2 separate regions of the Homo sapiens genome follow, and region 2 is linked to region 1. Evidence: fine-mapped expression QTL. Tissue or cell type: whole blood. Region 1 holds a variant in brackets; the other region holds the start of a gene. All regions are shown on one strand. Distances are between the middles of the regions.

Evidence for each region.
Region 2: NAB1 starts here. The variant in region 1 is fine-mapped to the expression of NAB1 in whole blood (TOPMed, PIP above 0.99).

What each region holds. Positions count from the first base shown.
Region 1 is chr2:190,681,886-190,698,551 of GRCh38, reverse strand. It overlaps NAB1 (NGFI-A binding protein 1), which reads right to left. Exons shown (of 10, transcript NM_005966.4): 7 at 14,725-14,814; 8 at 12,914-13,076; 9 at 11,235-11,351; 10 at 5,786-8,307. The coding sequence ends at 8,219. Among named protein-coding and RNA genes, the nearest start is that of NAB1, 41 kb to the right of the region's middle. The variant T/C (reference allele first, on the strand shown) is at 8,765.
Region 2 is chr2:190,642,385-190,659,050 of GRCh38, reverse strand. It overlaps NAB1 (NGFI-A binding protein 1), which reads right to left and starts at 9,968. Exons shown (of 10, transcript NM_005966.4): 1 at 9,691-9,968; 2 at 9,069-9,205; 3 at 2,898-3,074. It also overlaps a transcript of NEMP2 not described here. RefSeq lists silencers at 9,458-10,057, 10,068-10,437, 10,468-10,517, 10,598-10,647, 10,658-10,707.

The DNA of each region.
Region 1 (16,666 bases):
TCAGCCTGGGTGACAAGTGAGACCCTGTCGCAAAAACAAAACAAAACAAAACAAAACAAAACCAAAAAACCCTCAATTTAAGACACAGGTAAAATATAATACTTACATTTAATTTTGAATTTCTCTCAAGTCATCAGTAGCTATGCTGCTGTGCTGCTGCTTCCTCAGTCCCTGCACAACTGTCTTATTAGGGCCCTCACACTAGCCCACATCAAGGAGCTGGAGAAAACCTATATTTTTAAAATGCACAATCTGATTTTTCCTTCTCATTACAGACAGAAACCAGAGCAAAAATAATACTTATCACCTGCAAACTGATTTCTTCTCTAGGTATCAATGAGTTCCTAAATTTCTTGGTGCAGTTTCTCCTTTATAAGATGAGGATAATAGTGCCAAATTTGTTGGTTTGTGAAACGGATTAATTAGGTCACAACTAATGATAAAGATAGCCTTGCAACCTTTAAATAAAGGTGTTATTTCTAGAATTTTCCACTTAGCGCAAGAAGGGAGAATAGTCTAGAGTTCACTATTGTAAAATTGACTTGTCTCCTTTGTAATTAATAAATAATTTGTGAGTGAAATTTGGAGATGCAAATTAAGTTAAACCATGGTTTGAAACCTAGCTAATTTGTGTCCCTAAAGGGCAGTTCCTAACACTATGCCTGGGCATTTTTAAGCAGGTGGCTTAACAAATGCTTGCTAAATGAATGAATAATTGAATAATTGCATATCCTTCACTCTTGTTCCCCTTGGTCTTTATTGTCACTGCTCAAGTTTGACCACCTGAAGGGTGAACAACCGCAACAGCTTCCTAGTCACTGCCTCCACATAACATAGCCAGAATCAAGCCCTTTGGGGGCGTCTTGGAACAGCTTATAAACCTTAAAATATTAGCTGAGCATGGTAGCGCACACCTGCAGTCCCAGCTATTCAGGAGGCTGAGGTGAGAGGATTGCTTGGGCCCAGGAGGCAGAGGTTACAGCAAGCCAAGATTGCACCACTGCACTCGAGCCTGGGCAAGAGAACAATACCCTGTCTCAAAAAACAAAAACAAACAAAACAACTTCTAATTGCTTCCCAGATTGAATGAGAACTTTGTATGAGTTTCAAAGGATTTCATTTAGTAGGCACTCTTTTCTAGATGTTTTATATCTAATTAAACTTTTATTTGAATTTTCTGCTTTAGTCCATTACATTTTCCAGTGGTATTGGAATGTAGCTTTTCTGCTTCCCAACCTGGGCCTTTCAGACATGCTAATTCCAAAGCCCTGCAATGCCCTTTCACTTCTCCGCTTCAGTAGCTGCCTTCAGAAAGGCTTGATGTTTACTTTCTTTGGGAAGCCTCTGCTGCAGGCTAGACACCACTAACAACCAGCTGATCAGTACTCACATATGGCCTAGTTCTTTCCACATGTGTGTATTCAAGCTTTATCTATAAAGTGTTTACCATGTAAAATGTCTACACATAGTACAGGCCACTCAGTTCAAAGGATATTTGACAGGATCGGGTGCTCATGAACAAGTGACTGGCTTAAGTTCCTACTACTAGTTGTGGAATAACTATTATCTCTTGAGACGTCTGTTTTCTCATCTGCAAAATGGGGGTGATAAGTACCTCCTGGAGTTGCAGAGGATTACATGTAAAGTAGTTGGCCCAGTGCTAGGAAATGGAGGATTTTTTATATGGCACTACCTACCAGATTAAGAATATAAGCCTGAGTTTTAAATCTTTTGCTTTGCAAGGCAGAACTAGATCCTGTCTTTTAAATAAGAAATCATAGAAAAAGTGACTTCCCTTATAAGCCAGCTGTCACATACCTGTGACATGAAATGGAAAAGTCTTGAGAAATGGAATCCTCTCCTCTCACTTTTAAATATTAAAATATATTAAAATTGTTCTCTCTTTGAATAAATTACATAACCTCTAATTAATTTCCCCTTTAATGTTAATTTTTTAAGTGGAAATTGCCTTTTATTATCCTAAGAATTGGAATCAAGTACCTGGCTGTATCTGCGATGTCCCTATCTCACTATACAAATTTTTCTGTTGCCTTCTCACCAATAAAAATCAGAAAGATGTGCTCCAATTTGAAAGTTAGCCAATATATGCAAAAGAAACTCATAAAAGTCAATGTATGAGCATTTTCTGATGATGGAGACATTGGTTGAATTCAAAAAGAAAATGAATGACCTAGTTCATTTTAACTGCTGATGAAAAACATGCTTACATTATGTTGTCAGGGATCTGGGGATGGAAAATACATACTTTTTGGGGGAAAATAATGAAAACAATGAGACTTTGAAGAGCCTACAGTGTAAGAACATGCTACCAAAAAAAATCACTTTGTCTTTTGGGAAGGATAATAGCAGGGTATGGTGGGTGCTAGACCACAGACGTTTGGTTTAACAGTTCACAGTCGAAGACGATAGGTAGTCTCAGAAAATTATAAAATGTCTCTGCTGAAACAGTTACCAGTAAGATGCCACCTACGTATGCACTACTTAACTAGCTTCCTACATACTGCAGCCTAAGTGACCTGCCAACATAGGGTGTCTGTGACAGTTACGAGAGAATGGCCATGCTTGCTTGGGATTATGTGTGGGTGTTGAACATGGCACTTGGAACAAATTTATGAGGTGCAAACTTCTAATGCAAAGATGACTCATAAGGTTTCAGAATGTGTACATATGAAGCACATTCTAATTTATACCATCACTAGTGCTCACCCACAGCAAAACTAGGCTAGGTTGATTACCAAATTGTTTGGACTAACAGGAAATTCACAAAATTTGTCACTCTTAGTAAGTGAGAAAAATTATTGGGTTCATGATTTTAACATGTGTGGCACTACCATCTTGAACCAATGTGATGTACTTAATCTACATTTTGCAACATTATGTTTTGATGTCAACATTGAACTATCACTACTTCTCAGAGACTGAAGAAGCTGATTCTTTTAATAAGTTAGAATGGAAAACTTAAATAGAATTGTATAATAAAGCAAACATTTCAATAGAAACTTCTAAAACTTAAAACTGTATTTAGGTAGGTTTCTCGATTTACATAAATGTAGCATAATGCTCTGTGCAGAGGAAATTTTTTAAACATTTTACTGAAAGTTATTCTTAAGATATTTAATAACTAAATTGACTAAAGTGCACTAAATATAAAGTCAACAAAAATTAGGAGAGGTAATTTCCCACTTCAGTGTCTTGATTGTGGTAATCAGTATACAATGTACTGGTATAAAAAACCATCACACTGTATACTTCAATATCTTTTTGTCAAATATTTTAAAATTAAAAGAATAAAATGGAAAAATAATGGTAACTAAGGATTTCATATGGATGTTGAAATAAGAACTAAGATTACTATTTTATGTGAGTCTGATGTTCCTTGAGGGTTTTACCCCAATTGCTAAAAAAAAAAAAAACTCATTAAAAATTCCTTTAAGATGAAGTGGTAGAAGCCAGACCTTTAACATTATTGGAGCAATACTTTGAAAGTAAATCACTTAGCAGTCAGAATAACAATTTGGAAATTGTGACCAAATAGTCAAACACAGCTGGGAGACCTAGAATTTAACAGGACATCGTTTTAACACTTAAGAATTGTGTGACCTAACAGATGGGAAGACTATAAAAGAGTAAGGCTTAATTAACCAACTTTGTAAACAGAACCAGTTCACAGTTCCCTTAAAAGTGATTACGATTTGCTAAACTTAGAAAGTAAAGATTTGTAAGCTGAACTTAACCTTAAGCACAATACATTTTTGCATTCTAATAAGTTGATTATGAACTTAAAAAATAAATTTCTGATTAGGCTTTTCTGCACAAAAAAAACACCTTTGAGGTGATCACAAAAAAAAAAATGTCATAGGTCAGCAGAAACAGATGCCAAAGATTTTTTTTTTTGAGACGGAGTTTTGCACTGTCGCCCAGGCTGGAGTGCAGTGGCATGATCTCGGCTCACTCCAAGCTCCGCCTCCCGACTTCACGCCATTCTCCTGCCTCACCCTCCCGTGTAGTTGGGACTACGGGCGCCCGCCACCATGCCTGGCTAATTTTTTTCTATTTTTTTTTTTTTAGTAGAGATGGGGTTTCACCGTGTTAGCCAGGATGGTCTCGACCTCCTGACCTCGTGATCTGCCCGCCTCAGCCTCCCAAAGATGTTTTAAAGGTTTAACTGTTGCATACTCAGAAAGTAAGAAAAATCCTAGCTCCAGCATTTTGCTTTTGATCACTTCTACATGAAATAAAAAATTGTCTTACAGGATCACTATGGACATAGTTAACAGTAAGATTTTTGATATTAAATTGTATTTACAATAAAAATGTCAGGCACTGGATCATTCTCTTATTAACTTTGGAGGCCTACTTACAAATTTCATTTATGAGGACACCCACAGATAAGAAGCTTGCATTCCCTGAAACACCACCCATGCACAGCTGGACCATATGGTGGCTTTTAGTAAAAGAGCAACTACTGTATTTGGTCATTCAAGCTGTTACAAACATACAAGGTTTGTTCAATTCTAACTTCAGCTACTTACTAATTGAATTGATTTCCTAAAAGAGGCAGACCTTCTGGCTTCATCAGGTTGGTTAATACCTTGGTTTTCTTTTGAAGACTTGATGTAGTACATTAAGTCACAAGCAAAATGGGCATTGTGTTAATAATACTTAACTATTTTGAGACCCAAGTGGACAGACCATAAGTTAGGAAATTCCCTGCATACTTATTTAGCTTTTAAGTCTTAAATAGTGTCAACTATAGTTGTAAAGGTACACTAGGTGCTAGTAGTCTCATAATTACCAAATCCTAAAGCTTTTACCCAAGTGGTTTCACTAATTAAGGACAGATGAAAAGCACCTTTCCCCGCTGCCTTTTGACAGATTTAGTGGATCGTCAAAGGAATGATTACCCAGGCAAGCAGATCTAACTGCCATGCAGTTTCAAAATAAAATTGCAGTAATTTAACAACAACAACAACAAAAACAACAACAAAAAAGCAGCCTCAAAGTGAAATGTACTGCCACTATGGCTTTTTATCAAACTCCACCTCTGAATGTTGATTTCAGTCCTGACCGATCTCTTCTGAATCTCACTCACTGAATGTGCTTTCTCTCACCTGTGAAGTGCCTGCTACCACAATGTCTGCCTAATACAGAATGCACTTAAATGTCAGCTCCTCATCCCAATATGTAAGGCACTGAAATTTTTATGTGAGTGGTATTAGTTCCTACGCAGCTAGGTTTTGGGCAAGGATCATATATTTCGTTTGTGACCTTTACCTCTTCCCTGGCACCTAGCACAGTGCTTGGCACACTGATGATCTTCATTAATCTATAGAACTCATCAATACTTGCTGAAAGGTTCTTCCTGGTTCTTTACTACAGGTTAGCTCAATTTCATATAATTAACCCATAACACTGAACCCAAATCACATTAATATTATACATATATGTATTATAGATGTTAAATCCTAATGTTCCTTTTATTAATATTTAGAAATGGTGAAGTTTTAAAAACGTCTTCATAAACTTCTACATAAATGAGAATATAAATTGACCTCTCTCTGCCAGACAAGAGTCTACTGAGAACCTGTTTACCAAATCATTTTTTAGAAATGACGGTAGCTGACAATATTTAGTCCCAACCTAAGACGTAAGTTCTTGTCCCTTAATACTGAAACCCAGCTTAAATAAGCAGATAAGCGAGGTAGAGTGGGTTAATATTAGTCACTGGAAAACTTCTATGTAGAAAATGCTATAAACATAAATGTGTGAGGCACAGAAAATCTTTATTGCCACAGGAAGCAAGTGCATTCGTCCCACCTCACCAACAGCTTGAAGAGTCACAAAAACGTGGACATCGCACAATAAAGTGTAAGAGACTCGGGGAGAAATGGTCCCTTGGACTATATTGGCTGTAATACTGAGGTAACCAATTGACCTTGTTCAGTGAAAATACCTCTAACAAAATGAAAAAATCAACTAATTATAACTTCCAATTCACATATACAATTCAAATAAAAATATATATTATTTGCTTTAATGTATAGCAAGTTTAATACATTAGTGTTTACAAAATAAAAACTGTATTCTACTGAAATTTTTCTTGTGCTTCCACCTTATCACTAAGCTTGAAAGACTAGAAACATAAGATAGTTAAGGAAACTTATTATGAATTTAAAGATGCAATCTGTGGGTCCACAACGAATGGATAAATATTGGAAGTTGGAAGATTACTGCATCTTTTAAAATTGTGGCTTATGAAAATCTACAAACTTGACTGTAAGACACAATTAAAAAAAAACAAAATGTTTCAAAATAGATTAGAATACAGGAAACGTTTCATGAAACTACTGAGATATACTAACCAGTGCTATGGCTAATATTAAAAACTGAACAGTCTATTGAAATCGTACTCATACTATTTCTACACACAGTGAACAATACAACCACAATAATCAACCTCAAGCTAGCAACAAAGTTGCAAGGTCCATAAGAAGCTTCTTCAGTGAGCAAAACACTATGGTACAATTAAAACATTTAGGAAGGGGAAAAAAGCCTTTTAACAGTATAAAAGTTGTTTACTGGCGTTTCCTACTGTAAAGTACTTCTACAAATTAAAATGAAGAAGCAATTTATATACGTGACAGTGATCTGAGACTACAGTGCAGACATTTCATCTAACATTTGGCTGACAAATTTTAGTGTAACAGATTATGACTTAATATTTTTTACAATTATGATCTAGAGCAGAACTAAAAACAAAAAAACACATACTCTCTTACACTCAGAGTCAATACACTCTTCTCAGTAATATCTGGGTTTAGATGCATCTGTAGGAAGTAGGTAAAGCTGTCAGTTATCTTCTCTTAAACCAACAGAAAAAACGTATATTGGCAGATGTATGTTGTTTTACCATTATGAATTCCAATGTGAAATTCTCATAAGTATGCAAGTAAATTATTAACATGTAAGCACACTCCCATATATATGCACATGGTCCATTAATTAAATTGGGGGAACTAAAAACATACTGTCAAGTTAAAATAAATTTTAAGAAAAAACTGCATTCATAAATCTCAAAGGTGTAGAAAAATGAAATTGTAAAATAAATAATGAATATAGCTGTCAATTAAACTTCCATAGAAATATGCCTACAGATGTGGATGCAGTGATTGTCCACATTTGTGATGGCTGGGTGGGAAGACATTCCCTAGTGAAAGCATCTAGTCTCTCTGACTTCTCTACATAGAGAAGACTTTCTGGATATAAAATAGTACTTAATCTGTTACAGCCTTTGTTAACAGTCGCCATCTTTATAACATGTAGGGTTAACTTACTGTGTCTTAATCTATTTAACACATTCTGAAATATCAATGTTTAAGTCAAAGCTTTTATACATGGGTCCACTTATTTCAAGTTCTCTGTCCAAGCAATAGCTTCCTATCTTTGAAACATCTTAAGTAGCTATTAATACAATCTAGGTCAACTAGTTTAAGATATATTTTCTACTCTATTGCTCATCTTTTTAACTTTCCTCCACTCAAGTATTTATTGTGTAAACGTGCATTGATAACCAGATGTTATATGACTGAATGCTAAAAATTTCCTGTTAAACAAAATCAGTTTTATCAAATATTAAATCCACAATATTTTCCTTGGCTTAAACTGAGTATTCGCTTTCTATTTTTCCATAATCATTGCAATCTTGCCAATAACTGCATCACTTAAGCTTTCTTTTTCACAACTGCAGGCAGATTCTAAACTCTGACATATATTTACGTTAAACACACAAAGTAGACAACAAAATTTCAAGTAAAATAAACTGTATCCACATCTATTAGACCAAACAGGTCTCAACATCTAGATTTTACTTCTATAAATTACACAAATACATTGTACATTCTTAAATAATGAATGCTTACAATATTGATTTGTAAGCCTTTCCATATAAAATGACTTAACACAGGAATGTGAATGAATCAATATTACTGTTATAGATTGCAACACTCTTGATTTTCTCTTTTGTGGCTGTTGTTTTATCTTCCTGGTTTCCACAGACTACCGTACCAGTCCTTTTGCTTTGGCTATGAAATCTGTTTGAGCTGAATGAGGCAACACTGGTTATTAAGGCTTATTTCTATGATGGAGTATTATCCTTAAATCTGATGCCATTTCCAGAGAACGGTGAGAGAAATCACAGCTATCTTGAATCTTCAGGCTCTGTTTTGATGACTTTCTTTTCTAAGGTAAAAGCTGAATGAGGGTAGTCTTTTAAAATCCCAAGGCTCTCTACATAAAAATGGAAACAAAGTGAGTTGATATTTTAATCAATGGACTACAAAAATCAAACAAAGTTTTAAAACAAACCCCCAAACTCCATATCAAATAGTATCAACTATTCATGATTCTGTAATTCCATGCAAAATTTTTGTTCATAGAGCTGTTAAGAGCTTGGATTCTGGATTTAAATTTCAACTCTGCCAATTACTAGATGTATACATATAGTATACATATATGTATAGATGTATACATCTCTGGGCAAGTTATACACCTCTCTAAGCCTTAATGTCTTCATTTATAAAATAGGAATAGTATCTACATAAAGTGGCACGAAAGTTAAATAATGAAATGCACATAAAACATTTAGCATATAGAATATATTAATTTTTATTTAATGCTTGATCCAACATGATAAATATATAAAAGGAAGCTGATTATTCATAAATAACTGTTACTGGTTAAAATA[T/C]TTACCATCAATGAAGGAATCAGACTGAAAAATATCTTCATAACCTTGGAACTATTTTTTAAAGTTCTTCCGACAATGACATATTAAGGTAGGGGAAATAGGGATAAAATAATGAACACTATTTTCATGAGAAATCATTCCATGGAGTTCTATGTGTACAGTTATTTCAACCATACACAAACACTACAGAATAACAATCAAATGTAACCTTTATGTAAAGTACAAATACTGGGAGATATGTACACACACATATACATGCAAACATCCACATCACATACACTCACACCTTGGATTCTAGAAAGTAATCAATACTAATAGCTTATCTGAAATTAAATAGCTCAATTTATGAATCCTCTCTATCTAAACAGAAGGGGATTTTAAGTTCCGCGTAAGAGTAGTAAAAAAAAGTAGCTACTATTTATTGAATTCCTGCTGGCTGGAATAGATAGTGTACGATGCAGGTACACTATCTTGTTTAATCCTCCTAACTACCCTACGAGGTAGAAATTACTTCTCTTTTACCAATGAAGCAACTGAAGGACGAGTACTTAAGTAACTCAGTCAGGGTCACTCAGTCAAGTATCGGTGCTAAGATCTGGACCCAGGCTTGCACTGTATGAAACCTGTATTATTCCTATTCAGTTAAAAATAAAGAATAAGGTGGCCGGGCACAGTGGCTCACACCTGTAATCCCAGCACTTTGTGGGGCCGAGGCGGGCGGATCACAAGGTCAGGAGATTGAGACCACGGTAAAACCCCGTCTCTACTAAAAATACAAAAAATTAGCCAGGTGCAGTGGCGGGCACTTGTAGTCCTAGCTACTCGGGAGGCTGAGGCAGGAGAATGGCGTAAACCCGGGAGGAGGAGCTGGAGTGAGCCGAGACTGAGCCACTGCACTCCAGCCTGGGCGAGAAAGCGAGACTCCATCTCAAAAAAAGAAAAGAAAGGAAGAAAAGAAAAGAAAGAAAGGAAAGAAAAGAAAGGAAAGAAAGGAAGGAAAGAAAGGAAAGGAAGAAAGAAAGAAAAAGAGAAAGAAAGACGCTTTTTCAGGCATTTCTTCATTCGGTTCTACCTAAAAACCTAGATCAATTATATCTCTATGTAATATATCTCCATGAAATATGTAAATATGCCCCATGATGAGACACATGATCAATGTAATTGGAGTATTCCTGTTACATAGAGTCTTCTAAGGAATATAAATTGGTAAAAAGTCGTTTTTTGTTCGTTTTTGAAAAAACTTTAAAGATCACTTTTTTTGTGTTATGGAAAACATGAGACCAGGATGTCATCTTTTTAGGATAATTTCAATTTCCCAACCTCCCTTTGACATTATTAAAATGGCTACAATCAAGTATGCAATAGCATGCTTTAAAGTCACAGTACCAGAACATTATTTAGAACTCGTCTTTTTAGCATCTGCTACCAAGAGTATGATCTAAAATTGAAAGACATAAATGCTCTTGATAACACTTTTTTTCTAGTAAATACATAATTCATTCTATCTAGATAACAGATGTAAAGTCAGGTTTAATCCTAATGCTTGTAAAACTACATTTCCCGCTGACTTACAATGCAAATTTGGAGCTATTTATTTGGCTTTAGCTACCTCATCTATAAAATCAGTGACGTTGATTAAGTGACTCCTAAAGTTACTTTAACTCAAAGACTTGAATGATAACAGATTCTTTCAAATTGTGCTGGTCTCTAATGCTTTAACTAGGTCTAACTCACTTTACTTGGATAAAAATATGTAAATATCTAACTATGATAAGGAGCTGCTCATCCTTTTATGGAATTCAGTTTACTTCTGAAATATGAGTATCACCTCCAAAATACATCTGCATGAAAAGTCTAGATTTTGATACACAAGGTTTTCTCACTGTCAAAGCAAACATGTAGTCCATCAATTTCATATTATGTTATTGCCAAAAAAGGTAGTAACACAACTCAAACCAGCTATTTATTATTAAACTTTCATATAAACATCACCATTCATATAATGGCTAATCAAAGTAATCTCAACTTTCATGAGTTTTCCCTGTCATTGTTCGGAATATGAAGTTTGCAAAAAGACTAGTGAGAGCAGCCAGTGTTATGGCAATCTACCACTTCCAAGGGGAGAAAAACTGACAATTGAGCATCCCTTATCCAAAATGCCTGGGACCAGGAAGTGCTATGGATTTTGAGCTTTTTCAGATTTTGGACTATTTGCATTACACCAAAGGTTCAGCATCCCAAATCTGAAATGTTCTAATGCGGGTTTCCTTTGAGTGTCATTCTGACACTCAAAACATTTTGGATCCTGAAGCATTTCGAATTTTCCAGTTAGGGATACTCAACCTGTAGGAACACTGTCAGTAATGACTTTTTTTTTTTTTTTTTTTTTTTTGATGGGGGAGGAAATAGAACAGAATTTAAAGATGCTTTTATTCAAGTGTTACCCTCTCATCATATAGCACGTTCTCACCTGATGAGTGGGACTTTGCCTCACTGGGGTAAAGTCTGCTCAGCTCCCCATCCACCACAAAATGATGGGGTTGTCTGTTCTGTAAATTAGGCATTCGGAGATTCAAAGGTCTTTCTCCTAATGAAAAGAAAAAAGAAATATGCATAATATTAAAAACATACCATGGTTTTTCTTAAAAATAAATTTTGCCTGAACACTCCTTAGGAAAAAAGTGAGGAGAGTCAACGAGCACTGAAGAATTTAAATAAGACTTGGAAAAAACATTTTAAATAATAATTTAAGAGGAAAATGGCAAGTCATTTCATGCCAGTCCCAAGGTTTACAATTCTGCCAGGATATTTTTAAGAGCTAAACAAAAGACTGAGAATTCCTGTGAGCATTCCAGTTTTGGCATATAATACATCTCCTCTATAAGGCATTTTCTTACTAGAACAACCATTTTACCAAGGCATGTCATTAATCATATAATAACAAGTACTAGAAAGACACAGAAGGCTTCAAGCCAATTAAAGATTAAAAAAAAAAAACTACAGCAAAATCCGTGAAAAAACAGATTTAGCACAAATATGGGAAAAAATTATACACCCAATCATGTTGTCATGTACTGAAATCCATCACATTAGCAAATTGTCACCCCACACTGAATTATCCTGGTGTCACAAATTAGAGTCACCAAATCTTTAATAATTGCCTTTGCTTCTTAACTGTTAAGGATAATTGGAGAAGTTAAACAAGACCTCAACTCAGAGGTTCCTGTAATATTTTTAAAAGGAAGAACTTTCTTCTCTTCCAGTACTCTGATGTGTTGACACATGTAATATTTCAGTCCATGGCTGGAGAATCCTTGTTAAGATGGTATCCTTACCTAGGAATCCTTTTATTTTTTTACAATAATAACCACTCTCTAGAAAAGTATAACAATAATATATAAAAAGGAGGCACTATAAAATTATTTTTTTTCTTCAAACACTTATTACTATTTGAAACTAGAGGATATATAACCTGTACATCTCCCTCCACTACATGTAAGCTCCAGGTAAACAGGGATTTGTTCCCTGCTGCATCTTCAGTGCCTAGGAGAGTGCCTGGCACATAGGAATTGCTAAAAAAATAAAATGCCTGTTGGTTGGGTGAATAACAATGACTTGGGATTTTCTTTATGTGAGGATGTGAAAAGAATGAAGTACTTTTTAGAATGGTAAAAACACTCACGAATCACATGGCTTTCTAAACCTGAGCTGTACTCTGTCATAACACTTTAGATGCAGTCACCATATTCTTTTAAGAACCAAATGCTGTAAATTTCACAAACTTGTTTTTGAAGTCTAAAAAAATATGAAGTTTTGGTCATTTAAAAAGGATAAACATCTCTCCCGGAATCTGCTTCTTCGGGGAAAATAATCTGTACTGTTGACATCTCACATTCCCACCAACCCCTACAAAATAATACATGTCAATCTCAGGTGCCAACTGCTTAAAGATTAAAAAATTTACAAATTAAAATTTGCAGGATAAATTATCTTTTTAGAAAAATGAAGAATTCAAAAAATAATTTTGATAAGAGAACCTGTAAAATAATCTCTACAAAATATCATAATTTAAAAATCAGCCACTGTCTTCTGTTTCTCTTTGAAGTGCACATAGTGGCCCTAAAGGCATAGGATATTCTAAAGATGTACCTTGTCCATCTGAGTTATCGGAAGTCAAGCCGTTAGGACTGTGCTCTTCTGAGCTCTGCCTGTAAAGCCCTGCAGACAACCTCCTCTCGGCATGCTGCAGTCTCTCATAGCCAGCTTGGTTGCAAAGGAACTCCATCTGCTTTGCCATCACCTTTTCAGGCTGCTAGTAAGTAAAGCAAAAATCAAATCAGTAACTGAAACATTCTAGATTTTTTAATGGTTTAAAGATGCCAATTTCAGACTCCAGCAAATATATTTAGTATTCATTAAAATTAGTTCACACTTCATGTGGTATACAAATTCCATAAATATGCATAGATGTCTATATCATCATGTTAAAACATAAAAGGCTGGATATTGTACAAAAGATAAAAGCTTTCTTCTCAATTCTTTCAAGAGAATTCCATGTCAGCTCAAAAGCAACATAACCTTAGCTTTGTTTTCCAAGGTACTAAGTCCTTTAAAGGATTTTTTAAAACAGAAATCTAAAAGCAACAGCAACATCTGCTATAAACTACTTCTAACACTTGGGGCGAAATCTTGGCATTTTTATTTTAGGATCTGGCAGTACACAGACTCTGATATGATGACAATATGTTTGGGGGAGAAAAGGTGTAAAACGGCTGTCTAGAAGAACAAGACAAATACACTTCCCACTAAAATTAAACAATGTAAATTATGCAGAAAAACATCAGTGCCAATAAGCATCTTTACCTTCATCATGAAATGAAACTGCAGTATTTCCCAACCAATCATAAAAAGGCATATTTTAAATATACAATTAGTCAACTGACATATAAATTTATCTCTGTATGTGTTTTATAAGTTCCTTTTCAATGCACTGCTCTAAATTACTTATATGTGATATTCAGAGCAGTGTATTTGTGGTATTTTGCCAAGGAGATAATAGTCAAAATGCACAGATATGAATCACTACCATGCTATATAAGAGAGTAGGACAAGAAAGCTGCTATATAAAATTGGTTACAAAATGCCCTGATTCACAATGTAAAAATCAGTAGGTAAAATATATTAATTCACAGAATAAACATGATAAACACACTATTTTTCTGAGTGCATATAAACCAAATCAAAAGTAACTACAACTTCATTTCATTTGAACTTGTTACTAAATTGACAAAATTTAAATAAGCATATCTGAGGTAAAAAATGTATTTTTCATCCTAACATGAAAAAAACAAAACTTAGCAGTACTAAATTTGATCAAAAGCAACTTATTACAAAGAAGCTGTTCAATAGGAATAAAAGTTTACAGTGCTTTCTAAAAGATGATGTTTGCAGAAAGCATTTTAAAATTTTAATTTCAGTATACAGACAAAATTAAATAACTTAATGGCAAAAGCACCTGAAGCCACATATTCATTTAATAGTTTTTCAATAAATATGAATTTAAAAGATTTAACAATAATTACAATGTTGACTATTAATATTTTATTGAGAACTAGTATTATTTTATCTCAGAGTTGCATTACACACAGCCATGGTCAACATGGCTGGTTTTCCTGATTATCAAACTGTTTAAGTTTTCTTGAGCAGAGAATCTGTCTCACTTCCTACAAAACTACAAGAATAAATAAGTAGCACCATATCAGATTCCGTTCATAAACTGAATCAAACCAAGTTGTTATTGCTCTCATGTTGATACAGCTGTGGCTCAGATGACGTTTTAAAAAACAAACGGAAATAAAAAGTCAGGCCTCAGATACTTAAAACTGAAGCTAGTTGAAGTAGTCATTTATTTTTTAACCTTCAGATACTATCATGGAGTAATAACTGGGAGTTTATGTTACCTGTGAACTAAGAGCTGCAAGTTCTTCACTCTTAGCTCTAGCCTGCTGGAAGAGTGTTTGCACAGAATCCTGGAAATCTGGAAACCCATCCTGTGGGTCAAATAAGAAGTCCTTTATATTTAGAGTTTGTAAATAATAAAATATTATCAAAAACTTGAAAATAAAGCAAACTCTTAATCTCACTACCTGAATAATCATGATTAAGATTTTAATGGTTATAAAATATTTCATTTCAGCCTTTTATGAAACATACATTATTTTCTACAGCTGTAACCTCAGTAGAAACATAAATAAGATGAAAAATGTCATCATTCCTATTGTTTTACACTGGAAAGAAGGCTTTATGATCATTGATAATAACGGTTATATAACATTTCACCTAGGCTGGGTGCAGTGGCTCACGCCTGTAATCCCAGCACTTTGGGAGGCCAAGGTGGGCAGATCACCTGAGGTCAGGAGTTCGAGACCAGCCTGTCCAATATGGTAAAGCCCCATCTCTACTAAAAAAAAAAAAAAAAAAAAAAAAAAAATTAGCTGGGAGTGGTAGCACACGCCAGAAATCACAGCTACTAGGGAGGCTGGGCAGCTACTTGGGAGGCTGAAGCATGAGAATCGCTTGAACCCAGGAGGCGGAGGTTGCAGTGAGCCGAGACTGCACCACTGCACTCCAGCCTGGGTGACAAAGGGTGATAAAGTGAGATTCTGTCTCAAAAAAACAAAAACAAAAACAAAACACATAAAAAACATTTAACCTAGTGGGGGGTTTGATTAGCCACTATCCTCGCATTGGACATTTTTTATTCTTTTCCTAATTTTTGGTTTTATGAAAAACACTGCAAAAATATTTTCATGGAGATAGCATTTTCGATAGCTTAGATTATCTACTACAAAAGATTCCCAGAAGCAGAATTACTGCAGAGATGATATTTTTGTGCCTTATGTACTTTCGCTAAACCTATAGAGGGCCTTTACTAGTTTATCATACCACAAGCAATACATGACAATTTCCTTGTCAGCACTAAGAATTCTTGTTTTCTTAATTTATGCCAATTTATCTATACTTTTGATACTCAAAAATCATTTAATTTTTATATGCCTGTTTTATATGCTATAGTTGTACATACTTTTATTTTGTGATTTCAACTGTTGCTATAAAGTTTAGAGAAATTCTGCTTCAGAAATTTGGTTCAGTACTTAAATCTACCCTCTAATTTTTCTAAAAGTTTGATTTGTTTTTTAAATTTAACCCTCTGACCTATCTGAAATTAATTTTGTTACATGAAATGTGGCTAACGATCCAAACTAAATGTTCTTTAAAGTGCTAACCGATAATCCCAACCTGAATTGCTCAAGGATTCCTTCATGTTGGCTTGCGATTTCACCTTTATCATAACCTATGACAGGAAATGGAGCTTTGGAATTCGAAAGGCCTGTCACCACTCACTAGCTATGTGACCACCGGATGAGTAACTTAACCTTTCTGAACTTCAGTTTCCTCACAGGAAAATTGAGGATAGGAGAACCTATCTATTAGGATTGTTGTGAGGACCAAATGAGATAAAGCAAGTGAGATAATGCCTTCAGCATGTAATAATTACTAAATAAGTAAGTATATCAATACATACTAAATTCCCATAATAAATAGGGCCTATCTGGGGGCACTGGATAAAACTTCAACTTAAATTACTTCCATTTTATACTTGGTATTCCACCTACTTTTTTCAAGGTTTTCTTTTTTTGACTGTTTATTGCTCATGATCATTATAACTACAAAATATCATGACAGCATGGTTTTAGTAACTTTAGTGAAACCTCCTAAAGGACTCCTCACAGAAATTAGCATTTACAATTAAACTCCAAAACATTATTTCTCCCCTTCTTTGATAAGCTATATATTTGCAGCAGAGGGCAAATCCTTAAAAACCAAAGTTCTTACAATACA
Region 2 (16,666 bases), 40 kb after region 1:
ATCGTGACTGCCTGTGAAGGCAGCATTCTCTCTACATACTTTATCTCATTCTGAACTCCTAAAAACCTTATAGGTCAGTAACTAAACTGACGTACTTTCCCAAAAGAGAATAAATGGTAAGCAGGAATCTGGAGGTTCAAACCAAGGATCAAACCAAAGGTTCCATGTCCCGTATTTTTGGCTATATACTTTGCTACTGCCAAGGTTTGGACGCAGGTGGAGTGAAAGATAGTCAAATTTAGCAGGAGGTAAGAAGCAGAGTATGCTAACCATTTGCTGAATACTTACTTTGTGCCAGGCAATACAATAAACACTTTACATTACGTATGTCTAATTCTCACAATGGCCCTGTGACACAGGTACAGTTATTCCCATTTTATAGAGAAAAAATGAGCAAGATGAGTCTGGCAGGCAGAGGAAGATAGATTTCAGTATGAATTGGAGGTGAGAAATAGAAGGTGTTAATTTAGGAATCAAGAAAGAAGAGGTAGAGAAAAGTCAAACAAGTAACTGACAAGACTTGGTGATCACTTAGATCTAAGTGAGGAAGGAAGTTACTCTTTATTGACATTTATTGATGAAGAAAACAGTTACCATTTATTGACACTCTGTGGTTTAAGGGAAGAGTTACAGGTGACTACGAGATTACATCTGAGAGTTCAGAATTCTAACAGGCACTGGAGACACAGAAAAATGAGGATGATGGGATTCCCTTTCAAACACATGGCACTCGCACATGGCACAGGGTAGAAGGCTTATGTAGAATGGCCCTGCATGCAAAATAATAGACTAGAATCTAACTACGTATCAGGGAGAGGGCTGTAGGATAAAATAAGGAGGGTGGGTGATCACTCCAAAGCAGCAGCAGAAAGCCTAAGACAGAGCCAAGGAAGAAACATACTTTTTGAGCCCAAGCAAGACAAAGAAGTCTGTTTTTAAAGAGACAGAACAAGACTCAGCAAAGTACTTCTTGACCTCTTAGCAGCCTTTAAAAGTTGTTCACAGTTGCCTGGAGACCTCCCACATACAAAGAGGAGTTGGCCAAGTACTTCCATTTAAGAGAAACAAATAAACTTGTTGTAATCAAATGCACCCTTAGGATTAAAAGTACCCTGTAGCCCTCTATGGAGAAAATAACAGAAGGCTAAAAGAATATGTGCATCAGAGAAAAATGGAAGACCCACTCTCAACTCTGACAGTATGCAGCAATAGTTAACTGGGACGTCCCTGAAAGCCAAGAAGTCACTGAACTTGGGACTTTTGTTTTATGCCACCAATCAGAATGCTACACAAAATTCTAGTCTCAGTCACTCCAAGCCAGGAGAATGGGTGTCCCTACCACTCTAAGCACTGACTACCGGAAGTCCCATCTCCTGGAACCTCTGTGTCATCCACATCTGTTTTGACTTCCGCAAATTTTATGTCTCTTTCTTTGCAAGGGCTAGTATGGGCATAACCAGGTTACCTGATGACTTCCCAAAAGACAACAAAGGCTGAATTAGGGCCCAGTAGCTTCTACTAAAACCCAGGAAATCACCTGGGGTGCTTTTGAAAAATACAGTTTCCCAGGTGCCTGAGATGCATCTCAGGAGACTTCCATGATTAGGCAAATATGACACACTGCACAAGATTCCTACTTAATAAATCCTCCGGGCACCACAAACTCCTACAGGTACTGTGATGACCCAGGTAATTCTTTAGGTCAACCTTCACATTCATGCCACCTCAGTCCTCTGGATAAAAACGTTCTTGCATCTTCTAAATCACCTAAAGGAGGCTCTGCCTGTCCTCCCACTCCAGGGAGAATCTATCATCCACCTGGGCACTAACTCACAAAAACAGAGCTCTCAGGAGTTACAGACCCAAGTTTAGAGCTATATTAAACTACACTATACCAAATAGAAGGGCTGCTATAAAGTGTTGGAGGTGGAAGAAAGGACATTTACTTTCCTATCATACACCTCGTGCAATTCCTCCATAGGCTTTCAACGCAATACAGAAAAAAAAAGTACATGTGTAATGTGTATATACATACACATGATCAAAATAGACTGTGGAAGACACAGAAGCTCCAAGACATGGGGCTTCTCAGTAGTACACACACTATCTTTTTTTAATAAGAGGACTGTAACTTTGCAAGGTTTACAGGGTGATCAATTAACTCAGCATATGTGCTCCTCACATTATGGAATAGAGCAGAGATTACATGAGGAAATCTGGAAAAATACTTTTAAATCTTTTTATGAGCAATAAGAAAAAATATATGTTAGACAAATACAAAAGAGAAACTTAAGAACTAAAAGACTCAAGCTTATATTTTATTCTTCTGAGATAAGGCAATGATTTTAGAAAATAATTTTCAAGTTTTATCCTTTCTCATCTTTACCCACTTAAAAAAAAAATGAAACCCCCTAGTTCTTAAGAGAAAGCCCTCTGCATGGGTAAGAAAGTAGTTATGAATATAATATCTCCATAAAGACTGATAGGACCAAGTCTACATTTGCAAAGCCAAGATAACAGATGCAACATAACTAAGTAACCAATTCGGTCCCTGGAGGCTTTCTAGAGGCCCACACTTACTACTGGAAAAGGAGTTCTCCTCCTAAGCTTTTGCTTTAAGAGAATGTTTCAGTTTCCTTCCAAAGCCGGCTGTGATAATTTAAACACCCACCCCTTCATACATGAACTTGATGTGATTTGAAAGAAAACTTTTACAAGATTTTCTGTTTTCATAAAATCTATAACCATTAATGATTCAACATGAAGGTCAAATAAGTCAAAAGAAAGCTTCTACCTGCCTCTCTCCAATCTGAAGTAAATATAAAATGGGTCCTTAACACGTTATATACAGGTAGCTTAGAGTATTGTAAATCCACTCAGCTGAAAACTACTGTTACCTGGGCTTTTCAAGATATCCTGGAACGACCACTCGGAGTCTGACTTTTCAATGAATTCCACAGTTAAGAGAAACCAGTTAACTGCATTCAAAAGCTAACTCGGAGGCCTTGCTGCCAATGTACAGCAACTTCCACTTCCACTTCCATCAGCTTAAATGTTCCTCCCCCTGCTCAGTCCTATAAAAAGAATCCCAATGATGTTAGGGGAAGAGGAATTAAACAATGCATTAATTTAAGACCATTTGTTGTTGTTATTCACTGATCTTTTAAACGGTAATCATTTGTTCCAAAACTTTTTTTAAAATTCACTTTGGCTCCTTACAGGGTAGCATCAGTCACCTGCCAGATTCCAACTGTGCTAAGTGAAGCAGGGAGCTAGTCTGGCCCACAAAACTACCGGTCAACTCCTGTTTCGCTATGGAAAACAAAATTTCCCTGACAGTCTCCAAGCTGGGATGTGAGGATTTTTTGATAGGACAGAGGGCTTTAATTGTCACTAGAGAAAAGAAGAACCATTCCTTCAAACCTGACTCAGGCCAGCTTGTTTTCTGGGCTCACCATTCTATCAAAACTCTGGGCCTCTCTCTCATTAATCTGTCTGCTGCATGGTATCACTCCTTGAGATGCTCTTCACCTTACTTTGGTAATGCTATATTATTTGTTTTTCCTTCTTTCACCTATTATATTCTAAGAATTCTCCAAATTTTTATATTACATCTCTTTTCTATTGTGTGTCCATAATTTTCTTTTGATGATCTCACCCATTCCCAGGCTTTAATTATCACTATAGGCAGATGACCTCCAAATCTGTATTTGTAGCTTGGACAAGAGCCATGGAGTCACTCCAAGTGTTCTCAAATCCAAATACACACAAAGCACCAACTGCTGAGTGAAAAAGATGCCTCTCACACACGTCTACTTTGCAAATGAAGGTAAATAGACACTTCTGTTATTCAGTAAAACTCACTTAACAGTATAGCTGAATTTTTGTTTTGTCTTTACATGTATTCTCAAAAAACAAATACTAAAAGTAGTCATAAATATTTGCAAGTTTTTATTTAAAAAGCTATCCTCACACCTGAAAAGTTCAGAACCATCAGCCCAAACTGTTCTTCTGAACTGTAATTTGGCATTCCACCTGGGCATTGTCAAAACCTCAAATTTGATGTGTCCAAAATCAAGTACATTCTCTCATTTTCTGCCCTTCTTCCAGATTCCCAAGTCTACTCTTTCCAACTCTCTTAGTTCTTTCAGTTGCACCATTGGTCTTTCAGTTTCCCGGATTTAAGTAAGTTTGGATTCCATTTTTGCTTTTTCTTCTTTCTTCCTCAAATCTACATGTCCTTAGGCTACACCACCACTTCTTTCTCTGCCTCAAAAGCACCAAATTCTAGTGTTCATTGCTTCTTGCCCCAATTTTGAAAAAAGCTCCTTCACCTTCAATAGATCCCACACTGCAATGCCAAGTTTACAGATTTGCGAACTTCTCCACCAGTGCAGAGAAAGAAATCCAAACTACTCATATAGGCATCCCAGACCCAAGCCTATCTTTCCAGCCTTCTCTCTGTTCCTTAACATGCCCATATACTTGTGCCAAGCAGATACACTAGGCATTCCTCAAATATGCCTTCCACTTCCCTGCCCCTGTGCCAGGCATCCTCTCTCCCTCCAACCTTCACAGCCTTTCCCAAAATGTCTTTCCCACTACCCCTGGCTGCAGCTGTCATCTCCCTTCTCTGAACCCCGCAACACTTTGTCTCTCTTACATTTTGAACTTATTCAAATAACACCAACAACTAAGCCAGTTCTGGGGAACAGAGGAAAGACAGTCCTTCATGGAGAGTCAGTTAAGAGCAAGGAGAGACAAGAAGCAGAGACTTAAACAATGTGGTAAATGCTGTGCAGCTGTGAAGGAGTCATGGCACAAGGAAGGCAACCTGCCTGGCTCTGCAGAACAAGTCACTGTTAGGTTATAAGCACCCCAAGGGTAGGAATTAGGTTTCATTACTCTTTTATCCCCATTTATTCCTAGCAAAGTTTCAATGATGAATAACATCTCTGGAAAGGTTGCTGTGCAATGAAACCCAATGTCTGAGTCAGAATCTGATCAGCAACCTTTCATATTCCAAAGGGGAGGCCTTCTGTGTAAACCAGTATCTCAATGAATTGCCAATCCAATAACAGGGCATCCTGTTACTTTACCTACAATCCTTTTCATTCTCTCATCCTTAATACTTCTTCTTTCTTAAAAAGCTATACGGTGCACTCCTATAACATGGCTATTCTCCCAAGAAAGCAAAAGTTCCTGCCAATACAGGAACTACAAGTGGTTAGTGTTATACATCATGCAACGAGTCCGGCCCCAACACCTGCCTTTTAAGAATTCAAGTTCAGTCATGAGATCCTAGGTCTTTTTCTTCTCTGTTCCTATAAATTAAACACGGTGTAAGTTATCATCAAATATCTATCTCATTAATGATCCATACACTCAAAGGGATTTATAATCACTATTCTTGCATCTTCTCCCCTCCATGCTATGGGAATCATTATTAGATACACATACACAAACATATATAGCAATACACATATGAACACACTTCCAGGAGTGGGAAGAAACCACGGGCAAAATCCTAGTAAGGCCTGACTTATTTATGCATAAGACTAGAAATTCCTTCCCCCAACACAGCCTGCAATTTTTACTTTAAAATTATCTGAGTTAATAGCAACCTCTTACAGACTTACAAAAAATGTGAAAAACCTTGGGAAGAGTTAAGAGCTCATGAGTCATTTACAGATAAAGGTAAATTAGTTCCATCAGATTGTTTTCTTCTTAACATCTAGACAAGATCTGATGCACATTAATGAAAGATTGAGATGGGAAATGGGGACAATGAAAATAGGAAATCTGAGGACAGAAAGACTACACTTAGAGCCTCTGAAGTATTCCAAGTTCAGGAGAGTATAGCTTGAAGGTACAGGGGCCTGAGAGAAGGGTGAAATGGGTACACGAGAGGCTGAAACAGAAAAGGTTTATAACAAACAAGAATTTGATTTAGGGAAGGATGAGCCTCTGTGTCAGGGGTGTCCAATCTTTTGGCTTCCCTGAGCCACACTGGAAGAAGAATTGTCTTGGGCCACACAAAAAATACACTAACGATAGCTGATAAGAAAGTTTATGCATTTGTGTTGGGCCGTATTCAAAGCCCTCCTGGGCTGCATGCAACCACAGGCCTCGGGTTGGACAAGCTTGCTCTATGCAATTAATTATTTTCGCTTTTATTCTCATCCTAGACCCAGAACTCAAGCTAAAATGATTAAATATAGTTCAGCTACACTTTATGGGTTACTTAAGATTGTAGGGTTGGCCTAGGTACTAACTCCCATGTATGTGTTTCAAGCTTCCAGTGATTTACCTAGGCACACATATTAGTAAGCATTCAGTGGTGTACCATATAAGTCAAGATACTTCTGGATCTTAGCTATGAATTAAATATATACCTTCTAATGAATTGACTGTAATTTGGGAAACTTAAAATGTTGTCTCTTATTGATTCGTTTCTAAATTCTGAATGGAATGAATGAAGCTGGAAAAAAATTTTAGAGACACCTTAAAATTTTAATAAAAATATTCAGTGTGAGGTTAAATTTACTTGCCAAAATTAGAAAAAACTAAACCAGATTTTGCTAAATGATAACTATGTATTTATTCATTTAACTATAGTAACAATAGGCAAATACTAGCATTTCGTACAATGGCTGGAAATTCTTAACCAACCAACCATCAAGTCATTCAACAAACATTAAGTACCCACTGAGCACAGAGTATGCAGGCAATATTTATAAGTTTTTTTCACCTTTTCAGAAGTTTCTCTGTAAAAATCATTAAATTAATATACCATGCAAATTAATGGGTCACCCCCTAAATACAATGTATTGAGAAATGACAAACTCTTTGAAAGCTTAATGGCATGTTTTAGCTGTGTGAATTCTCACAAGATGAGGATTACTATTTTTTCCAAGCATCAACTTGTCAAATTTCCCACTTGCTCCATTATTAAGTTTAAGGAGTATATTCTACTGTTGTATGAGTTATTGAACATGTCAGATCAGAAAGGGAATTTGCACTTAATATAACAATTGTACCATTCTTCATTCTACTGTTGAAAAGGATAAAAGAAGCAGGTAAGATAAAAATAAATCCAAAGCAAAGGGTCTAGCAATCTTCTATTATGCTCAAGTGGGTATTATTTATGCTATAATATGTTTAGCAAATTCCACAATGAAATATGCATAGACGGGTTGATTATACATTAGCATGATCTTAAACTGTTCAAAACATATTATAAAATGGTCACTTCCATCCAAAACACAGCTTTGCATTTAAAGGTAAATTTTACAAAGATTTCATTTCCAAAAATGTACATAAATAGCACTCACAAAAAACAGCTCCAGGCTTGTTATAATGGAATAAATGAGTCCTAAGTCTTAGGCCAATGAAACCTGACATAACTTCGGAGGCTAAGGTGGGATAATCCCTTGGCCCCAGGAGTTTGAGGCCAACCTGGGCAACACAGCGAGACCCCATGTCTATATTTTCTTTAGAAACTGACATACTTCTGTTTTCATCCAACCTGAACTTTAAATATTTAAAGTTCATTAACAAATTCATCAAAGATGTCCCCCAGTTTATAATTTCTTCTTTCAAAGAAGCATCCACAGTGCAAACCCCCAAAATCTTTAATAAACCAATAGGTTCTTAGCTATACCGTGATGAAAATACCTAATGCTTTCAGTGTTTCTCTAACAAGGAGAATAAACATCTATTAACTTTCTCATACGACAGTGGATGTTATTTGCCACTTACAAAAAAGAGATTACTCAACTGAATAATTTTGAAATAAGATGAGATAAAGTATTTTTTAGATAGATCAAGTTATTTACTAGACATATAAGCTTACTAAATGTCCTTGTAACAACCATAGTAATCCTAAGAATTTCTGTCATTTGAATTACATCCATAATTAGCAGGCAGAATAAAATAAAAATCTACAGTTCCTCAATGTTGTCATTATTACATTATTATTGATACCTTCACAAGTAACAAGAGACCATCAGAGTCGGGAAAAAAACATTTTTAATCTCGAAATGGCATATTAACTTTAGTGCAAAATGGTAAAAATAATAAAATTGAAACAAGAAAGCTTCTTCCAGAAGTTCCTTGAAATTTTCTTTCAAGACCTAATGTTCCAATATCTAATACCCAAATCAGGGATAAAAAAGGCTGACCTAGCCAGTCATCTACAAAGACTCAAGAAAACCCTTATTTGTATGTTAATACCGATGAAAAAATATAATCTTTTAAACTTAAAGATAATATTGTATGTCTTAAATGACACCAATATGGAGAAGAAAAAGCCTTTCATCTAAGAGCCACTTTTACTGGCACTCAGATTAGATCAGAAGCAGCTCTTTCAGGTCTTCAGGAAAAGCTCAATCTCCACCCAAAACAGAAAAAGCAAATCCTATGCATCCTCTCTCCTCATACTTCTTATAACCCACACACAAATTATGAAATATCATAATTCAGTATGTTGTTCAGGGAAAAATTTTCAAAAAAGTGAAAACCTAGGAAGGTAAGTCATTGCGTGAACACTTTTACAACAGCTAAGCATTTCCTACGTGACTAATCTATTTTAAATTCGGCTCCTCTGTTCCTATGCAATCTCATATTATCTATTAAAACTGCCAAAATATTTTTAAACAAGATCTGAGAATTCCTCTTTCAGCTTCTGATCTTTGCACTCTTTGAGTTGGCAGACACGTCACTGGCAAACCAACTGGTAGTGACAAGTTACTCCAAATCGACTCTTTCAGATGAAATTTTAAATTAACAGCCATCCCAAAATTTTCCGTGCCTCCCGAATCTCAGGGAGCGAGGTGTAAGTACATGCAAGTCTACGATTCCTCCCGATCACTCGCTGCAAAGCTTGGTCTGCAGAATCGACAAATGTATATTCCATCTCAACTATCCCTTTCCCCGAGATCCTGCAACATTCAGGCTTAACAGAAGTGTCATTTCCTATCTCAAGCTTTGGAAGCTCTGAGTTTGCAGACCACAAAGATTTGATAGTATTTTCAGTGTTTCTCCATGATAAGGTCACACACACACACCTCTATATCCAACGCTTGTATGTCCCACATGTGTTTCCAAATTCCTCATCGGCCTTAGAGACACAAAGAGTTTCTGGCTTCCCTGCACCTCAGCGCCAAGTTTCTGTAAGCCACTTCCATGTAAAACTCTCCTTCCGCTTTTAAAAAGAAAACTACATTCGGAAAGGGAAGATACCCAAGAAGAAAATCGAGACGGTAAGTGCAGCACTTTTATAAAGTAAACAAACAAAAAGACTGCCCTGACGAAGGTGGCTGCAAAACTCTGGGGCCGGCGCGCACAACCCACATCGCACACCCCCAGAGCGCCGTGTGACGCCCCCAGCCCCGTTAGCAAAACGGACTCGGCACCCCAACCTTTCTCGGAGGGAAAATGCACGAGTCAGGGCCGCGCTCCCCGCCGCCCTGGCACACAGAATGTCTCCGGGAATCGCCCACACGAGCCCGGGGCCGCCCTCTCCTTCCGGCGGCGGCCGCGCGGAGCCCGCTTCCCCCGGACACCGCCCCCAAAGTGCCCGCGTGGCCCCGCGACTCAGCCGCCCCAAGTTCGCCCGTGGCCGCTCAGCCGCGAAAGTGTCCCGCACTTGGCGGACCGGGAGTGGCGACCGTCCGCTCCGGTACGTACTCAGCCAGCGGCTGCAGCGGTCTTGGCGCGCTCTCCCCGAGGACTGCTCAGCCCCAACTCCGAAGCGACGGCCCCCGGCTCTCCCTCCTCTGGCGGCTGCAGGAGCCGGGACGCCCCCGCTCCCATCGAGGGGGGAAGGGAAGGTGGTGGGCGCGCTCTCTCTGCTCCCCCCCACCTCGGGCCCGCCGCTTCTTCCCGCCCACCCGCCCCGACGGCGCTCGCTTGGCCGCGGCGGCGGCGGCGGCTCCTCCAGGCTGCGGCGCGCGGGCGGCGGCGGCGGCGGCAGCGCCTCCCCCGCCGCGCCTTGCCCTCCCCTCCCCTGCCTTCCCCGCGCGCGCTACACCCTCCTCCCCCTCCCCCGCCCGCCTCCGCCGCCTCCACTCCCCCACCCCGCGCTGTCACATTGGGAGATTCCGCTCTTGCTACATTCGCCGCTCCGGCTCCCGCCCACGCGCGGCCGAGTGACGCAGATCCCGGCGTGGGCCGCCGCCGGGCGGGGGCGGGGGCGGCCGCTGGGCCCGGGGCTCGGCCCCTTCCCGCCGCCCCCTCCGCGGAATCCGGAGGACGGCCCATTCACACGGCAGCTGGGAGGAACCAAGTGGGCGCCGGGAGTGGGCGGCTCCCGCGAGTCCCGCTCCGGGCGCGGGGAGGGGACGACAAAGAGGGAGACGGGTGGGGAACGCCGCCTCCGGCCTGCTCTCCAGCTGCGGAGTGAACTGGGAAGGTTTGCAATTAAAAAAAAAAAATTATGTGTGAGGTTCCCGATATAGTATTTCAAAGAGCACACCCGCCAAATCCAACATCCTCTAGGAGGCTGACTTTAAAAAAAAAAAAAAAAAAAAAACAACAGCGCGCCGGGCTCCCCTGGCCCCCGCAGGCTCGGGGCAGAGGCGGGGAGGCAGGTGGTCCAGGTGCGCCCCTGCCCGGGGGGGCGAGGCGTCCGGCGGGAAGGCTGCAGCGACCGCATGGAGGAAGGGGCGGCAGGTGCGCGGCGCTGGAAGAACCGGCGGCTGGGAGAGCATCTCTGCCTCGCCCATCTTGCCCCCTCCCCACCTCCGCTCTGGCGTTGGGACGGGAGGAGGAGGGAGGAATGGAACCAGGGAGTCCGAAGTACAGCTTTGACAACTGTCGCGCTGGCCGGGTAATTTAATTCCAACCTTTTTAACCTCCTGAAAATCTGCCTTTTATTTTACTGTTTAATGTTTTTTGTGTCCATGGTGTAGAAAAACTACGGCGCTAGTATAGTGCTGGTGTGTGCTAAATTAGAGTTCCCAAGGCACAATATAGAATTTTTTGGTTTGCATAAACTTTGCTAACCAAAGTATTAAAGCACCTTCAAAAATGTACTTAGGCTGGCCAGGGCTCACGCCTGTAATGCCAGCACTGTGGGAGGCCGAGGCGGGCGGATCACCTGAGGTCCGGAGTTGGACACCAGCCTGGCTAACGTGGTGAAATCCCGTCTCTACAAAAAATACAAAATTAGCCGGGCGTGGTGGCGCATGCCTGACATCCCAGCTGCTTGGGAGGCTGAGGCGGGAGAATAGCTTGAACCCGGGAGGCGGAGGTTGCAGTGAGCCAAGATCGTGCCATTGCACTCCAGCTTGGGCAACAAGAGCGAAACTCAGTCTCAAAAAAAAAAAAAAAAAAAAAGAAGAAGAAGAAAAATGTACTTAAGCTATTGCCAAAAAAATTTTGGAAGTCTGTTTTTTAAATCTATATTTCAATTCTTTGCAAAAAGTGGAAAAATTAAAGAATTTTAGCATTGTGTTCTTGAAGATTAGAGAGCATTCATTAATATAAAACTACTGCAAAGACAGGTAGAATCCCATTTTAACATACACATAAAAATCAAGTTTTATAGGAGGCCATTCCCACACCCTGGCTGGCCTCCCAGAGTGTGCCTACTTCGCTGATGGGGATACAAGGCATTCTTTGAGATGGGAAATTCTTCAAACCACATCTTTATGTTGCAGCAAGGGATAGGATGATGATGATGATATTGAAAGAAAAAGACTTTAATAAAGTACAGAACCTTTTTTTTTCTTTTTGCGAAATCATGTTATAGAAATGAGTAATGCCGCAATGGAATACATATAATTAAAGTTAAATCTTTTTCTTCAGTATTAGTGACAGGTTTTGTCTGGAGTAGTTGAGTTGATATTTCAAATGAATAAGTCTGCTTAATTCCTGAAATTCTTTAACTGCAGAAATCACTGCTGGAAGTTTCTCTTAGTCTCCCTAATTGTCACGGTTTTTGCAGCTGTGGATCCTGTTCTACTAAAGAGAAAGTTAGATGGTCATGTTAAAGACGATTTAGGCAATTTCTTGGTTGGTGGGGAAGGTAATGTTCAGGCAACGAAATCTGCAAAATTCTCTTCTAATTCCTCTATGGAATCTTGATGTTTTGCAAACACTCTTGGTTCTGAAAGCTAGAAAAAAAGAACTTTTTTCCGTAAAGATGTATAATCACGGATTCATGAGTCACGAAATGAGTGGTCTTACCTGAACTATTGAGCCTTCTAGTGGAATTGTTTCCAGAGTTGGAAGAAACAACATTAAATCCTCTTCCCAAGCTTGTCTGTGTCTGGCTGAACATGATGCTGAAAAGGAAATGTGTCAGGACAGATACTTTTTCTTCTGAGTTGTATCTGGTTTCTACAGTTAAACAGTGGAATCTATCCTTGTTTGTTTTCTGGGCACATTTAGATAGTGTATTCTTCCCACATTAAGAATGGCATTTTTGGCCCACTTTACTTTGCCTTAAATGCCCTGTGGTGCTGGGGGAAGTGGTGGGAGGAAGGAAAATGAAGGAAAGATAAAATTTTAAGCTTTTAAGCATCCAATTCTGTATGTCTGTATGACAACACTGTAGTCAATATGGTAGCTCAAAAAGAACTGAAGCATTCGCCTGTATCTGAGTCAAGTCAGACGATGGATTCTTTTTTTCCACCTTACCAGGTTTTGTCACTCATGCCATCCCTAATACCTCCTCCCGACTCCAGCACACACACAGTCTTCTCCCACTCCCACGCCCTGAGGATTTGTTAGAGGAAAGCAAAGAGATTCACATTCCATCCTGGAAGGTAACAATTATGGTGTCTGATTATCCTCTGAAGGCCCTCTGGAAGAGATCAAACAGTTTCAAGGCTTTAGAGTGTTCTTGGAGGCATCCCAGACAGGTGTAAGAATGTGCTAACACAAATAGTTGCCATTCAGACCACTTTGGATATCTTTTGTTAAACGTCCATGCAATAGTTTTGGTTTCTCCTGGTGTGATTTTATTATAAATACCTGTATATTGAAATTATTCATTTATTCAGTACAGCTTGTTGAGCACCAAGAATGTGCCAGGTTTAGGGCTGGATGCTTGGAACACAAAGACAAGTAAGTCATGGATGGTTCCCTGCCCGCAGGGCTTTGCTATAAAACAGTGAAAATAAGGAGAACAGAAGGAAGTCTAAAAGACAAAGGAAAATGTTTTGTCTCTGTTTATAGTTTTGATTGTCTTTTCATGCACTCTAAAAGATGAATATAAAAACTACTAAGGAATGAGACTATATTATTTTTGTAATACTTCGTCGAATGCAAATAGTAAAATAAAAATAATTTTCTTATACATGGAAAATCACATTTCATGTTACATTTCATTAAGAGCCTAAAGGACATGAGTGTAATTTCCAAGAGGCAGAATTTTTTATTCACTGCTGTATATTCAGTGGCTAGAACATTGGCTGACGCATACTAGTCACTTAATAAATATTTGCTGAATAAATGAAATGGAAAATATGAACTAGCAGAATTTTGTATTTTGTAGATGTTATTAGTATGAATTGTATTTCCTAATAGAAGTGTCTAAAATATGTGATGCCTACTTCTGATTAAATATATAACATTTTCAATAAAATATTAAGAGTTAGAATATGTTTTGAAGCAGTGTGTAAATTGTGAAGTAATTTTAGAATGTTCCTAAAGTAATTCATATTAGATTTTTAGGCACAAAATTTATTTTTAAATAAATTACAAAGGGTTAATAAATACACCAGATTCTGAATTTTTAACACCATTTGGAAAGTGGTATGAGAAATATATCAAATTCTGTTTTTTTATTTATTATTCATGTGTTTATTCTTAACTCTATCTCTTGCAAATATCATCCCAGGCTTATTCCTTATATATAAAAGTAAGGGCAAGACAGAGCTACTTCTGATGTCTTAAATAAATATCACTTGTATGGTTTTAAATTTTGAAAACACTTTTTAAAAAATTTGAAAGCCTTCTTGACTTAGTTTTTGTTTTTACCTGTTAGGAGTAGATTTGGGAGAAGCTTATTTTACAGGCGTGTTCATAATTTTAATCCGTGTTGTAGAGTGTGTCACAGTATACAGCCAAATCACCAGGTTTATTTCCCCTCTCAGAAAACCAGATTTCCTCTCTCAAGTTGTGTGTGTGTGTTTTTTTTAACTTTTATTTTAGGTTCTGGGGCACATGTGGTTTGTTACATAGGTAAACTTGTGTCACTGGGGTTCATTGTACAGATTAATTCATAACCCAGGTATTAAGCCCACTACCCAATAGTTGTCTTTTCTGCCTCTCTCCGTCCTCCCACCCCTCACCCTCAAGTAGACCGCGCTGTCTGTTGTTTCCTTCTTCGTGTCCATGAGTTCTTATCATTTAGCTCCCACTTGTAAGTGAGAGCATGAGGTATTTGATTTTCTGTTCCTGTGTTAGTTTGCTAAGGATAACAACAGCCTCCAGCTCCATCCACGTTCCCACGAAAGACATGAACCTGTTCTTTTTTATGGCTGCTCTCAGGTTTAAAAATTAGAGAAAGAGAATAATTTTTTTTGTGCTTCTGAATGGAAGTTGTAATTCATGGAAAATAGAATATAATGTATGCCACTGACAATATACAGTCAGTATATATGACACACCTTTGAACACAAGACCAGTCAATGGTAAATGAACACTGCTCCTTCACATTGTCTTCTGATGGCTCTGTCAAAGTACAGAAGCATGCTGAGATGATTCGAGATGGAAGATGCACGTTGGCATTAAATAGCAGTAAACCACATACTGAACAAGCTATTCCCTTTTCAATTCTTTCAGTCCTTCGAAGGAGGAAATTTAAATTGGTGCCAGTATGTCTGTAATCCTTCTAATACTTGCTGAATTCTGTTTTTTGTTTTTTTTTTACAATGAGGAAACAGGCTTCAGCTCAGAGCCTTGGCAGGCCTCAGTATATAGCTAGAATTTAATAGCACTGTTTTCCTTGTATTTGTTTTTATGGTTATCTTCCATTGAGGCAAATGAGATTCATTATGCATTTAGAATAACGATCTCAAAATACCTTTTAAATACATTTCCTTGAGCAAAGACCCTTAATTTTAAAATGAGGACTATTAAGTAAACTCTCTTTTTTGTTGTTTTTGTTTTTGAGACAGGGTCTCACTCTGTCACCCAGGCTGGAGTACAGTGGCACAATCATGGCTTTCACTGCAGCCTCAACCTCCCAGGCTCCAGTCATCTTCCCACCTCAGTCTACTAAGCAGCTGAAACTATAGGCGTGCCACCATGCCCGGCTAATTTTTCTATTTTTTATAGAAACAGGATTTCACCATGTTGGCCAGACTGGTCTCGAACTCCTGGGCTGAAGCTCACCTCCCAAGGATAAATGCTATTTTAGTGGTGCAAGAAAATAATAACTAACATGTATCGAGTACCTAATAAGTGCTGGTAGCACTTTATCAGTATTAATTCATCTGATCCTCGCAACAGCGCTATAAAGTATGCACTATTATTCACTTCATTCTCTGGTAGAACTGAGGAAACTGAAATATGGGGTACTAAAATTACCTGTTTAGGTAACATGGGAGAGCCAGGCTTTGAGGCCAAGATCTCTGTCCCACAGCCCATGTCTGGACCATTAAACAGATAGCTCTAAGCAGCCAAGTCAGTGCTGGAGGTTTCAGAAACACTGACACAAGTGTTTCTCCCATCTTTAAAACTCCAGTTTAACTTCCTTGAAGATCACTGTGAGCTCCACTTCCCTCAGTAGCTTCTGCTTTCCCTAACTCCCATTCCACTTCTCTTTGGTACCACATGGAAGGCTTATAGTTATTTATGCATCTTTAGTTACTTAATTATGTTCATCCTAAGTATACAGTAAGCCCCCTTGGAAGGAGCAACTATGTGTTATACTTCTCTTGAATTCAGTGAATATATGTTTAAAAGGGGTTTTAAGAAATTGTTATTAAAACTGCTCAATGATTAGTGCATTATTTTAGCATTTGCAAAAATAAGGGATTCTTTTGACCCAAAAAAAAAAAAAAAAAAAAAACCTTAACCATTTCCACTTTGTGAAACTAAAAAAAAGTTTTCAGTGAAAAAAAAAAAATGTAAGAAGTTGGTAGTGATTTTGACATTTGAATGAAAATTTCACTAAAAGAGCATTAATTTATTATTTTCGGAAAGATTTCTTACTTTAAAATGCTTCAGTAATTCCAAACAAAAGAATAGATTTAAAATGTTCTTAGAGGAGAGGAAGAATAACATTATGGCTTATGACCTACAAGATCTAAGGTATAATATAATTCTCGTCTATTATTGCCTCAGAACAATTCTATACTTAACAAATTTTCCACTCTGTGTGGTGGTAGCCCTACAATTAACTGAGTCATGTAGAATATTCATATTACCAGAAATATAATTAAAATTTCCCTTATTTTGCGATATGAAATTCAAAGCTTTGGAAGTGTATTGTAGACTAAATAAACTTTTAAATGCATGGAAATTTGAGTATTTTTAAATATATAGAGATTATAAACAAGTTTCTTAAAGACAAGTTAATAGGAATATATAATAACTCATAATTTCAAGAGCCACGACTTTAAAAGTAGCTGCTCTTCTGAAAAATAAGCAAACCTTTATCCATTGTATTTTATTACAAGATACTATAGAATTTTAAGGTATAAAGGAT